Homo sapiens: one gene and its partner. The protein of the gene in region 1 interacts with the protein of each later gene in a biochemical or structural test. Each region holds a gene or a part of one and is shown on either strand. Other genes may lie near its edges.

Evidence for each region. The genes of interacting proteins can lie anywhere in the genome.
Region 2: the proteins of ATP2B4 (region 1) and CASK form a complex in vitro, tested with the Homo sapiens proteins (2 studies listed by BioGRID and IntAct, with this or other methods).

The regions. Positions count from the first base shown.
Region 1 is NC_000001.11:203,723,731-203,729,146, reverse strand, and holds part of ATP2B4 (plasma membrane calcium-transporting ATPase 4), read right to left. Parts: intron 5,267-5,416; coding exon 5,159-5,266; intron 1,753-5,158; coding exon 1,576-1,752; intron 1-1,575. UniProt on the Homo sapiens protein: Calcium/calmodulin-regulated and magnesium-dependent enzyme that catalyzes the hydrolysis of ATP coupled with the transport of calcium out of the cell. By regulating sperm cell calcium homeostasis, may play a role in sperm motility.
Region 2 is NC_000023.11:41,548,362-41,553,777, reverse strand, and holds part of CASK (peripheral plasma membrane protein CASK), read left to right. Parts: coding exon 1-59; intron 60-5,416. UniProt on the Homo sapiens protein: Multidomain scaffolding Mg(2+)-independent protein kinase that catalyzes the phosphotransfer from ATP to proteins such as NRXN1, and plays a role in synaptic transmembrane protein anchoring and ion channel trafficking.

The DNA of each region.
Region 1 (5,416 bases):
GGGAACTTCTTTTCTTTCTCTTTTTTTTTTGAGACAACTCTCAATCTGTCACCCAGGCTGGAGTGCAATGGTGTGGTCTCAGCTCACTGCAACCTCCGCCTCCTGGGTTCAAGCGATTTTCCTGCCTCAGCCTCCCAAGTAGCTGGGACTACAGGCATGTGCCACCATGCCTGGCTTGTATTTTTAGTAGAGACGGGGTTTCACCTAAGGCAGGGGATCCACCTGCCTTGGCCTCCCAAAGTGCTGGATTACAGGTGAGAACCACCGCGCCCAGTCTTTTTTTTTTTGTGAGACAGAGTTTAGCTCTCGTTGGCCAGGCTGGAGTGCAATGGCGCAATCTCAGCTCACTACAACCTCTGCCTCCCGGGTTCAAGTAATTCTTCTGCCTCAGCCTCCCGAGTAGCTGGGATTACAGGCATGTGCCACTACGCCCGGCTAATTTTGGATTTTTAGTAGAGACGCGGTTTCTCCATGTTGGTCAGGCTGGTCTTGAACTCCCGACCTCAGGTGATCCACCCACCTTGGCCTCCCAAAGTGCTGGGATTACAGGCGTGAGCCACCATGCCTGGCCGACTGGGGAACTTTCTAAAACATTTGCAAGGCCAGTTTTAGACAGTGAAACTTATTTTGAAGATCTCTAGCCAATCAGCAGAGAGAAATACGCCTGTTTTCTGGAGACCACCCTTGAGATCTTGGAATTTACAGTGTTTTTGAAATGGAAAATCTCAGGATTAAAACAATAAAGCTATGGGGGGTGAGAGCAGGGGAAGACAGAATTATCAATGCTTAGATCAGCGCATTCACCCAGGAGAAAGTAGTTACAATTGATGCATGGAAAGTGGAAAAAATAAAAGTTATTGTGGGGCTATAGACAGGGGACATAAGAGCAGCAGGGGTGGCTTCTATCCCATTTCAGAAATTGCAAGAAGGGAAGAGGCTTGAAGAAATTATTGCTTCCTCCTTGTCAGGAAGCAAGTCTGAATCCTGCAAAAGATGCTCAGACATCAAGAGACTATTGTCATTTTTACACATGAAACCATCAGATTCCCCACCATGGCCTTACACTTTGAATGGGGGAGATATAACAAGGTGAGTTTCTTTTACAAAGACCCTTCCAGATAGCATCTATTCCTATAATGGCAGTGTGAGGAAGCTATATTAAGTGAATGCTGGGTATGTTGGCATATTGATATTGTCTAACTCCTTCCTTCTGAAGGGTAGGGAAAAACTGAGCATTTCCCACCCTGGGGTCAGGTCTAGTGCTTGCAAGAGACCTTATGCTGAAGCTTGCCCATTTGATAGAGGGTGGCAGGCTGGGCTTTAGGGTCAACCCAGAGCTAAAGGACTATGCTAATAGTGTCCCATGGTCTAGGTCATTTGACTCCTCTCCTCTCAGAGGACCCCACACAGATCCTTTTGCGTGTCTGTCCTGAAGCTGAGGATCTAGGGCTGCCCATCAGTAGTGAGCCTTTGGAAGGGAAGAGATGCTGGCCGACAAGAACTGCTACCCTCCCAACACCTTCCAAGATGGGAAGCTGCTTCTCCCAAGGGAAGGACAGACCACTATCAGAGTACCTGAGTCTGGATACGGTTCAGGCCCCGGAACCAGAGGATCTGGCCTCGGCGCAGCTCCATCTCAGCATGGTCAATCTCATCCAGTCCCTCGGCATCCTTGGTGATCTCCTCTTTGGTGGTGCCATGCCCAGCCTCCTTCAGGAACTTCAGGGATCGGGTAGGTATTGCGGAGATGAACTGAAAACAAGCGCAGCGAAGAGGAAGACGTCAGAATCAGCGTGAGAAGAGCTGTCAGTCAACTTACATGAGCCAGGCCCTTGGGCAGGTTACTCTTTGCCCTACCACCCTTCCCACTGGAAGAGCAGTGGGCAGAAGCACCAATCCATCCAGGCAAGCATTCTCCAAGTGCCCACCAGCGGTCAGGCTTTTAGGAAGGTTTTCTGTATTTATGGACACACACAAAAGAGAGCTTCTATTCTAGTAATTGACCAGCCATCTGCCTGGTCATATACTTCATTTTCCTCTTTCTGTCTCATTTCTTCTGTTCCATTTTGCAATCTGTCTTTTAAGGTTAACAGAACTATACAGCATGGTACGCAGTAGGAAGAAACAGAGACCAGGACCTGGGGGAAAAGAGTTTGGGGAGAAGATGGTGATATTGCCTATGTATAGGCAAGGGGTTGAGAAGGGTATTGGAAATGAATGACCCCTTTCTTAGTTGCCACATGCAAAGTAGTTTCTGTGTTACAAACTCTTGTGAAAGGATACCAAAAGTTTTCTTGGGCTTGAGGTGAGGAAGTGGATGGGACAGTCCATAGAAGAGGGGTCACATGAGTATTATCAGAAGACAAGGAGCAGTACATAGGGTTTGAAATTTGAAATAAATTTCCCGGTGAGCTCAGCACCTGTCAGTCAGTTCTTTCCGGACAAGATAAGGAGTAGCCAGGGCTCATGTGGGGAAGAGGGACTGTATGGGCAATCTGATATGGAGTCAAGGGTTTTGAAATGGGAAGAATGCCAGAGCTCTGCCTCTGAATGTGGAAAAAGCTGTTGTGATACAGAAGGAAGGCTGCTGTCTGGCAGCAAGGCCACATGGCCACATGTGAGGCAAGAGCCAGAACAGAGTTTCAAACAACAGGTTTAACAACCAAGCTTTACCAAAGCATAAAACTGCTTTAGGAACCCATTGGTAAAAAAAAAAAAAAAGAAATCTTCACCAAACAGAACAGGGTGGAGGGAATTGGGTCAGACATTAATTAGGGAGGGCTGGGTGCAGCGGTTCATGCCTGTAATCCCAGCACTTCGGGAGGCCGAGGCAGGAGGATTGCTTGAGCCCAGGACTTTGAGATCAGCCTGGCAACATAGTGAGACCCCAATCTCTTTATTTTTTGTTTTTCGACATAGAGTCTCACTCTTGTCATCCAGGCTGGAGTGCAGTGCCGTGATCTCAGCTCATTGCACTCCGCCTCCCGGGTTCAAGCAATTCTGCTTCAGCCTCCCAAGTAGCTGGGATTACAGGCATGTGTCACCATGCCCGGCCAATTTTTTTTTTTTTTTTTTGTATTTTTAGTAGAGACAGGGTTTCACCATGTTGGCCAGGCTGGTCTCGAACTCCTGACCTCAGGTGATCTGCTCGACTCAGCCTCCCAAAGTGTTGGGATTATAGGTGTGAGCCACTGCGCCTGGCCTGAGACCCCCATCTCTTAAAAAAAAAAAAAAAAAAAAAAGAAAAGAAAAGAAAAGAAAAAGAAATTATTCAGGGAGGCATCTAGGTATGAAATAAATAACTAGCAGGTTTAGGGGAGAAGGCCTGCAGCTCCAGAAATGGCTCTTTGAGGCCAGTTAGGGCAAAGTGTCCATTACCTGGGTGGCTGGACACTAAGGGATTATCTGCAGAGACCTGGGGTCTGTAAAGAGAGGTATAGCCCAGGCCAGAGCTGAGGATGAGGGAGGTTTGTAAAGTGGTATTAAGGAAGAAGTGAAACTATTAGACTTAATGATACTATTATAATCGTAATAGTTTAAAATTTGATTATTTATAAGGAATAAGACATTATTCATTACTGTATAGTAACTGATTCACTAATTAACAATGACCTTGTTTTCCTAAGCTGAAGACACTGAGACACAGATTGGTTATGTAACTTGCCCAAGATGATTCAGCTTATAAAAAGGAGAGCTGAGGCTGGGCACGGTGGCTCAGGCCTGTAATCCTAGCACTTTCGGAGGCCATGGCGGGTGGATCACCTGAGATCAGGAGTTTGAGACCAGCCTAGCCAACATGGTGAAACCCTGTCTCTACTAAAAATACAAAAAATTAGCTGGGCGCGGTGGTGGGTGCCTGTAATCCCAGCTACTTGGGAGGCTGAGGCAGGAGAATTGCTTGAACCTGGAGGGTGGAGGTTGCAGTGAGCCAAGATTGCACCATTGCACTCCAGCCTGGGCAACAAGAGCTGGGCCAGGTGCGGTGGCTCACACCTGTAATCCCAGCACTTTGGGAGGCCAAGGCAGGCAGATCACGAGGTCAGGAGTTCCAGACCAGCCTAGCCAACAAGGTGAAACTCCGTCTCTAGTAAAAATACAAAAATTAGCCAGGTGCGGTGGTGGTTGCCTGTAATCCCAGCTACTTGGGAGGCTGAGGCAGGAGAAATTGCTTGAACCCAGGAGGCAGAGTTTGCAGTGAGCCGAGATCACACAACTGCACTCCAGCCTGGGTGACAGAGCAAGACTCTGTCTCAGAAAAAAAAAAAAAAAAAAAAAAAAACAGAGAGCTGGATTCAAACCCAGGCAGTCATTCCCAGAGTCCATGCTCTGAACCACAGGCCATACTGCTACTCTAGAGATCTTGTAAATCTGAATTTATCTCAGGTAAGAGTTAAGAATTCCACCCAGATAAAGCCATGGCAAGAAAGAGAAGAGGCTGGAAACCCTGAATTATGTCAGCTCGACAGCCCATAGCCAGGTTGCTGCCTCATGAGAATAAAGACATGTGTCTTGTAAACTCTTCTACTTCTAAGACCCTTATTATATATTTTTTTTTTGTAGCAAAATTCCATTGAAAAGTTTGGTTTCTGTCTCAGAGAAGCTAAGGGATTTTTCTTTTTTTTTTCTTTTTGACACTGAGTCTTGCTCTGTCGCCCAGGCTGGAGTGCAGTGGCGCAATCTCGGCTCACTGCAAGCTCCACCTCCCAGGTTCACGCCATTCTCCTGCCTCAGCCTCCCGAGTAGCTGGGACTACAGGCACCTGCCACCATGCCCAGCTAATTTTTTGTATTTTTAGTAGAGACGGGGTTTCACCATGTTAGCCAGGACGGTCTTGATTTCCTGACCTCGTGATCTGCCTGCCTCGGCCTCCCAAAGTGCTGGGATTACAGGTGTGAGCCACTGCGCCCAGCCAAGCTAAGGGATTTTTCTACCTCCAGGCTTAGTTAGAGAAGAATTCTGAAACCTCTGAAGTGATCATTCCACCTTGAGATCCTATGAGATGGCAAGAACTTGAAAACTTGAGTGGGGGTGGGGAGGGAAGAGGAGAAGATGAAGATGAGGAGCTGGGGGGTCTCCACCGTTGCTTGTTCCATCTCATGTAGAGGAGGGGAGTTCTGCAGGCTGTGAGAATGCACCAGGAGGGTGTGCCGGTACTCACCTGGCCCCACAGAAGTTCTCCAATCCCAATGAAGAGACACCACAGCCACTGAGACAGGCTGAGGCTTGTACAACTGAAGGGTTTACCCCCAAATTCCACGATGAAAATCTAGAACAGAGAAAGGGGCAGCCCACCATCAAGGAAATGACTAACAGGCAGCTGGCCCTCCAGCCAAGGCCCCCAAAGCCACATCATCCCACTCCTCAGGATCCTTGGGTACAAGTCCCGATTTGCTTGCAGGGGAAGGGAAAAGAAGAA
Region 2 (5,416 bases), on another chromosome or scaffold:
CTGGAAAACTCCAAAAATGGAACTGCAGGTCTCATTCCTTCTCCTGAACTTCAGGAATGGTATGTTTTTATGCGTGTTTTGCTTTGCTTGGTTATAAAAACAAAGCCCTGACCATCCATTTTCCAATTTTATATTATTTTAGAGTGTAAAACCTGTTTGATATATTCCTTCCTTTACGAGCCAAACAAAATTTAAATTAGTCATCCAAGAATTCTATATCTTCAGTATCTAGTGAGATCCTAGTTGCAGAGTCAGGGCTTCATTTTACACAAAAAGAAAGGAAGGTCTGGAAAGAGATTGGATGAGCAGCCCTGAGCCAAGTCATGGTCTCACAGCAGAGCCCTCCACTCCTATATGCTGTTATAATTGTTTTAGAATGGCATTAAAAAAATGTACGTTCTCCTTGCCCTTCTACATGCTTTCATGCCCATCCCATTCCCACCACCAGCAAAAAATGTAGGTGCAGTGCTTCAGTGTCACTCAGAGTATTTGAAGATAAAATGTATTTCACTGTTAGAAGGAGGTAGTCAGAAGCTTTGTTCTTTACCTTGCCAGTCCTTTAAAAATACCTTTTCTGCTAGAAAGTTTAAGCCCTAAAAGCAGGCTAAAGTTAGGGGTTTTAGGCACTGTTTTTAACTGAGAGAAAAGGAGTCACAGATCACTGTATATTTTGATAAAATCTATTTCTGCTATTATTGTTACCGTTTCCTTAGTTGAACTGTCTTTTGGAAAATATTGATGGTTTTACCTTTGTTGGTACTTGGGCAATATACCAGATTATTTCTAGCACAAAAGAGATAATGTCTGAGTTTTGTTTCATGTGGCAAAAAATAACAGCCATTAAGCATCCTGCCAGTTCCTCCTAAAATACTTGAACCCAGCTAAAAGAGACCAAAGACATTGAGTCCATAGAAATTTCTACCTGCTTTTATCTATTTTTCTCACTAGTTAAGAGATTTCTCAGTTAATCTCTTTTGCTTGATCGCCTCTTTCAGCTATCCCATGTTTCCCCAAAAAATAGTATTAAATTTAGAATGTTGGAGCTGATGAGGACTTCAGATGCCATCATTTTATACATAAGGAAACGTGGGCCCAAATGGAGAAGCAGCAGCCTTCCATCTGGCATTGTCTTTCAGTCTGATCTTCGAGAAACAGTTCAAGCATAAGCAGGAGGAAAGCAATCTTTAAGTCGTTGCCGTGATGATGCCATTATATTCTTACTGATATTTACATTTTACAGAATGTCTTCTTTAATGTTACCATATATTATGGGCATTTATTGAAAATAATTGTGTAGATTCCAGACCTCTTCTGCCTAGTCAGATCATCTATATAAATGTTTCACCAATTTCTAGAACTCTGAGTCCTCTGGAGGAATCCTGAGTGATGGCAGTGCAAAAAGCAGATTTGCTTCCTATTTCCTGTAATGGTGGATGAGATTATTTGGATAAATCCTCCTGATGAAAAAAAATGAAAAGTGCCGCAGAAAATATGTTTTTCAAATGACCTTGAAAGCACTGAATAGCTGAAAAGGTATCAGGGGCCAGGCATGGTGGCTCACACCTGTAATCCTAGCACTCTGGGACGCCGAGGTGGGCAGATCACTTGAGGTCAGGAGTTCGAAGCTAGCCTGACCAACATGGTAAAACCCTGTCTCTACTTGAAATAAAAAAAAAAAAAAAAATTAGCCAGGTGTGATGGCAGGCACCTATAATCCCAGCTACTTGGGAGGCTGAGGCAGGAGAATTGCTTGAGCCCGAGAAGTGGAAGTTGCAGTGAGCCGTGATCGCGCCACTGCACTCTAGCCTGGACGACAGAGTGAGACTCTGTGTCCGGGAAATAAAAAAAGGTACTGGGGAGCTCAGTGACCAATTTTTTTTTTTTTTTTTTTTTTTTTTGAGACGGAGTCTCGCCCTGTGGCCCAGGCTGCAGTGCAATGGCATGATCTCAGGTCACTGCAACCTCTACCTCCTGGGTTCAAACAATTCTCCTGCCTCAGCCTCCTGAGTAGCTGGGATTACAGGCACCCGCCACCACATATTTTTAGTAGAGACAGGGTTTCACCATGTTGGCCAGGCTGGTCGTGAACTCCTGACCTCGTGATCCACCCACTTTGGCCTCCCAAAGTGCTGGGATTACAGGTGTGAGCCACCACACCAGGCCTCAGTGACCAATTTTTATGTGAAAGCCTTTAATAAGAATGATAAGTGGAATATCAGAGTTACCAAGTGGCCCATTTTGCAAACAGGGCATTTGTCATTACTGAACACTTCTGTGCCAGAGAACCAAGGTTAAGATCTAAGGCCAGTACAAGTTGGGGAATCTGTTAGAAGACCCTCCTCATTGTTAGGAGTGCAAGAGGCAGTCCCCCCAGGCTAAAAGGAAACAGATAAGCATACCCTTATTTCCCTTCAACACCGGAGGACTATAGAGAAAGCTGCCTTGTCACTGAGCAAAGCAAAAGATGAGGAAATTGGGAACAAACTTCCAAATTGTGGCCACCAGTCCACCTTGAATGGATTTGCACCCAGGTACACACAGCCTGGGGCAGCCAGGGGAGCTGAAGCCATGTACTTGATTTGAAGTTTCCCCTTTCTTTACTAATAGTTTCAGATGTATGGTATAAACAGAAAGTCTCTGAAGGCAAACACTTTTATCCTAACCCCCACTAACTTCATCCTATCCGCCCGACATAAACTTTTTCCAGGGCAGTAGCCAGCAAGTCAAAATTATCAGGCACACAAGGAAACAAGTAAGACCCAACAGAAATGACAGATAGTAGAAACAAACCCAAACCTACTGCATATATTGGAATTAAGAGACAAAGATTTTAAAAATAAGCTTACGAAGTTGGTTCGTTTGTTTTTGAGACAAGGTATTGTGCTCTCGCCCAGGCTGGAGTGCAATGGCATGATCATGGCTCACTGCAGCCTCGACCTCCTGGACCCAAGCAATCCACCCACCTCAGCCTTCCCAGTAGCTGGGACAACAGGCGTGCACCACCACACCCAGCTAATTTTTTTCTTTTTCTTTTTTTTTTTTTTGTAGAGATGAGGTCTCACTATGTTGCCCAGGCTGATCTCCAACTCCTAGGCTCAAGTGATCCTTCCACCTTAGCCTCCCAAAGTGCTGGGATTACAAGTGTGAGCTACCACGCCTAGCCCAGGTTTTTAAAAATCAATAATAAGCTTGTAAAATATCTTCAGAGAGCAGAAAAAAAATGTTAATGACATAGCAGATTTTAAAAAGAACCAGAGGAACATCCAGGGGGAAACATGCAGTAACAAAATTAGAATCTCAGTGGTCACACCTATTAGAATGGCTAACATTTTTTTGAAGTTTCATCAGTGGGTAAATAGATCAATAAATTGTGATATAGCCATACAATGGAATGCCACTCAGCAATAAAAAGGATCAAACTATTGATATATGCAGCAGTATGGATGAAACACAAGATCATTATGCTGAGTGAAAGAAGCCAGGCAAAAAAGAGAACACGCTATATGATTCCATTTACATAAACTTCTGGAAAATGCAAGATGGGGGTGGAGGGAGGGAGGAATTACAGAGGGGCATGAGGAAATTCTGGAGGTAATGAATATGTTTTTCTTTTTTTGGAGACGGAGTCTCGCCCTGTCACCCAGGCTGGAGTGCAGTGGCGCAATCTCAGCTCACTGCAACCTCTGCCTCCCCGGTTCAAGTGATCCTCCTGCCTCAGCCTCCCGAGTAGCTGGGATTACAGGCGCCTGCCACCACGCCTGGCTAATTTTTTGTGTTTTTAGTAGAGACAGGGTTTCACCAGGTTGGCCAGGCTGGTCTCAAGCTCCTGACCTCAAGTGATCTGCCTGCCTCAGCCTCCCAAAGTGCTAGGATTACAGGTGTGAGCCACCGCAGCACCCAGCCATTTTTATTTTTTATTTTTTATTTTTATTCTTCTAAAGTCAAGGTCCCTCTCTGTCTCCCAGGCTGGAGTGCCGTGGTGCAATCTTGGCTCCTTGCAGCCTGGAACTCCTGGATTCAAGCAATCCCCCTATCTCAGCCTCCCAAGTAGCTGGGATTACAGGCGCCCGCCACCACGCCCAACTAATTTTTAAATTTTCGATAGAGATGAGATCTCACTATGTTGGCCAGGCTGGTCTCGAACTCCTGACCTCAGGTGATCTGCCCGCCTCAACCTCCTAAAGTGTTGGGATTACCTGTGTGAGCTACCACACCTGGCTAAGAATATGTTTTTCTTGATTGTAGTGATAGTTTCATGGGATGTTTACAGATATCAAAACTGATAAATTTGTATACTTTAAATATGTTCAATATATTGCCAAAAAACTGAACTGTTAAAGTTGCAAAATATATAGAGGGAGAAAAGGATTCTAACTGAGATGATAAGAAAGAGGCCCACTGGGCAGTGTGTACCCCAAGACCTGAATAGGACTTTGGGGGTATAGGAAGCTATTCCTGGCAGAAGAGAAAGATCAATTTTCCTTTGCTTGGAAACTGAATTGGCCTCTGGGATGTCAGTGGGCATCCAATACTAACAAGAAAGATTTGAAACAATTGTATCAGCCAGACCCCCAAAACTTTGATCAAATATATTGCTACCAAGTCACATTCTTCACATTTTCTAGATGAGAAATCAGTTTTTTCGGACCCAAATGCCTTACTCTAGGCACATCAATTTAGCCCTTCAATATATTTTAGCTCCCGGACTCTGTCATCCCTCCCCTTGCCTTGCCTACAAGATCCTGATCTAAGCCATCAATAAATTGGTAGGCATGTGTTTGAAATTTCCTTCCAGGTTGACCTTAACCCTAACACGGTTTCTGTGCACTTACTGAGCTAAAAGAGCTAATGTTTATTTCTGCAGTGTCTGGTAAAAATCAATTTCATTCCTCTGTCATCACACCACATGAGACTATGCCACAATTTTTTCCTGGGAACCTGTATTTTTGTTTTAAGCTTAAGAACATTTATTATAAGATACTCTCTACATTGTAACATAAGCTTCACAAGGTCACACGATTTTGTCTCTTAACCTGTCAAAAAATTCCTCAATTCTGTTTGTTTCCAAAGATTCTATGCCTTTTAGTTCTGACTAATAGCACATATTGACTTGCACCAAAAGAATCCCCAAAGCAAGCCTTTATCAGCCTCCTCTGTATGCCACGTGGGTAATATATGGAGATGGACTTTGATACTATTACTGAGAGTTCGCAGTATTTTCCAATAAATGTCTTTCCCCCAACCAAAAATAAATACATAAAAACTTCAGTGAACAAGAGCGAGTAAGAGATATGGAAGACAGCCTCTTTAAGAAAATAGAAAATAATACTTCCCAAATCATTTTATGATGTCAACATTACCCTGATACCAAAATTCAGTAAAGGCAGTTCAAGAAAAGAAAACTACATACCAGTAT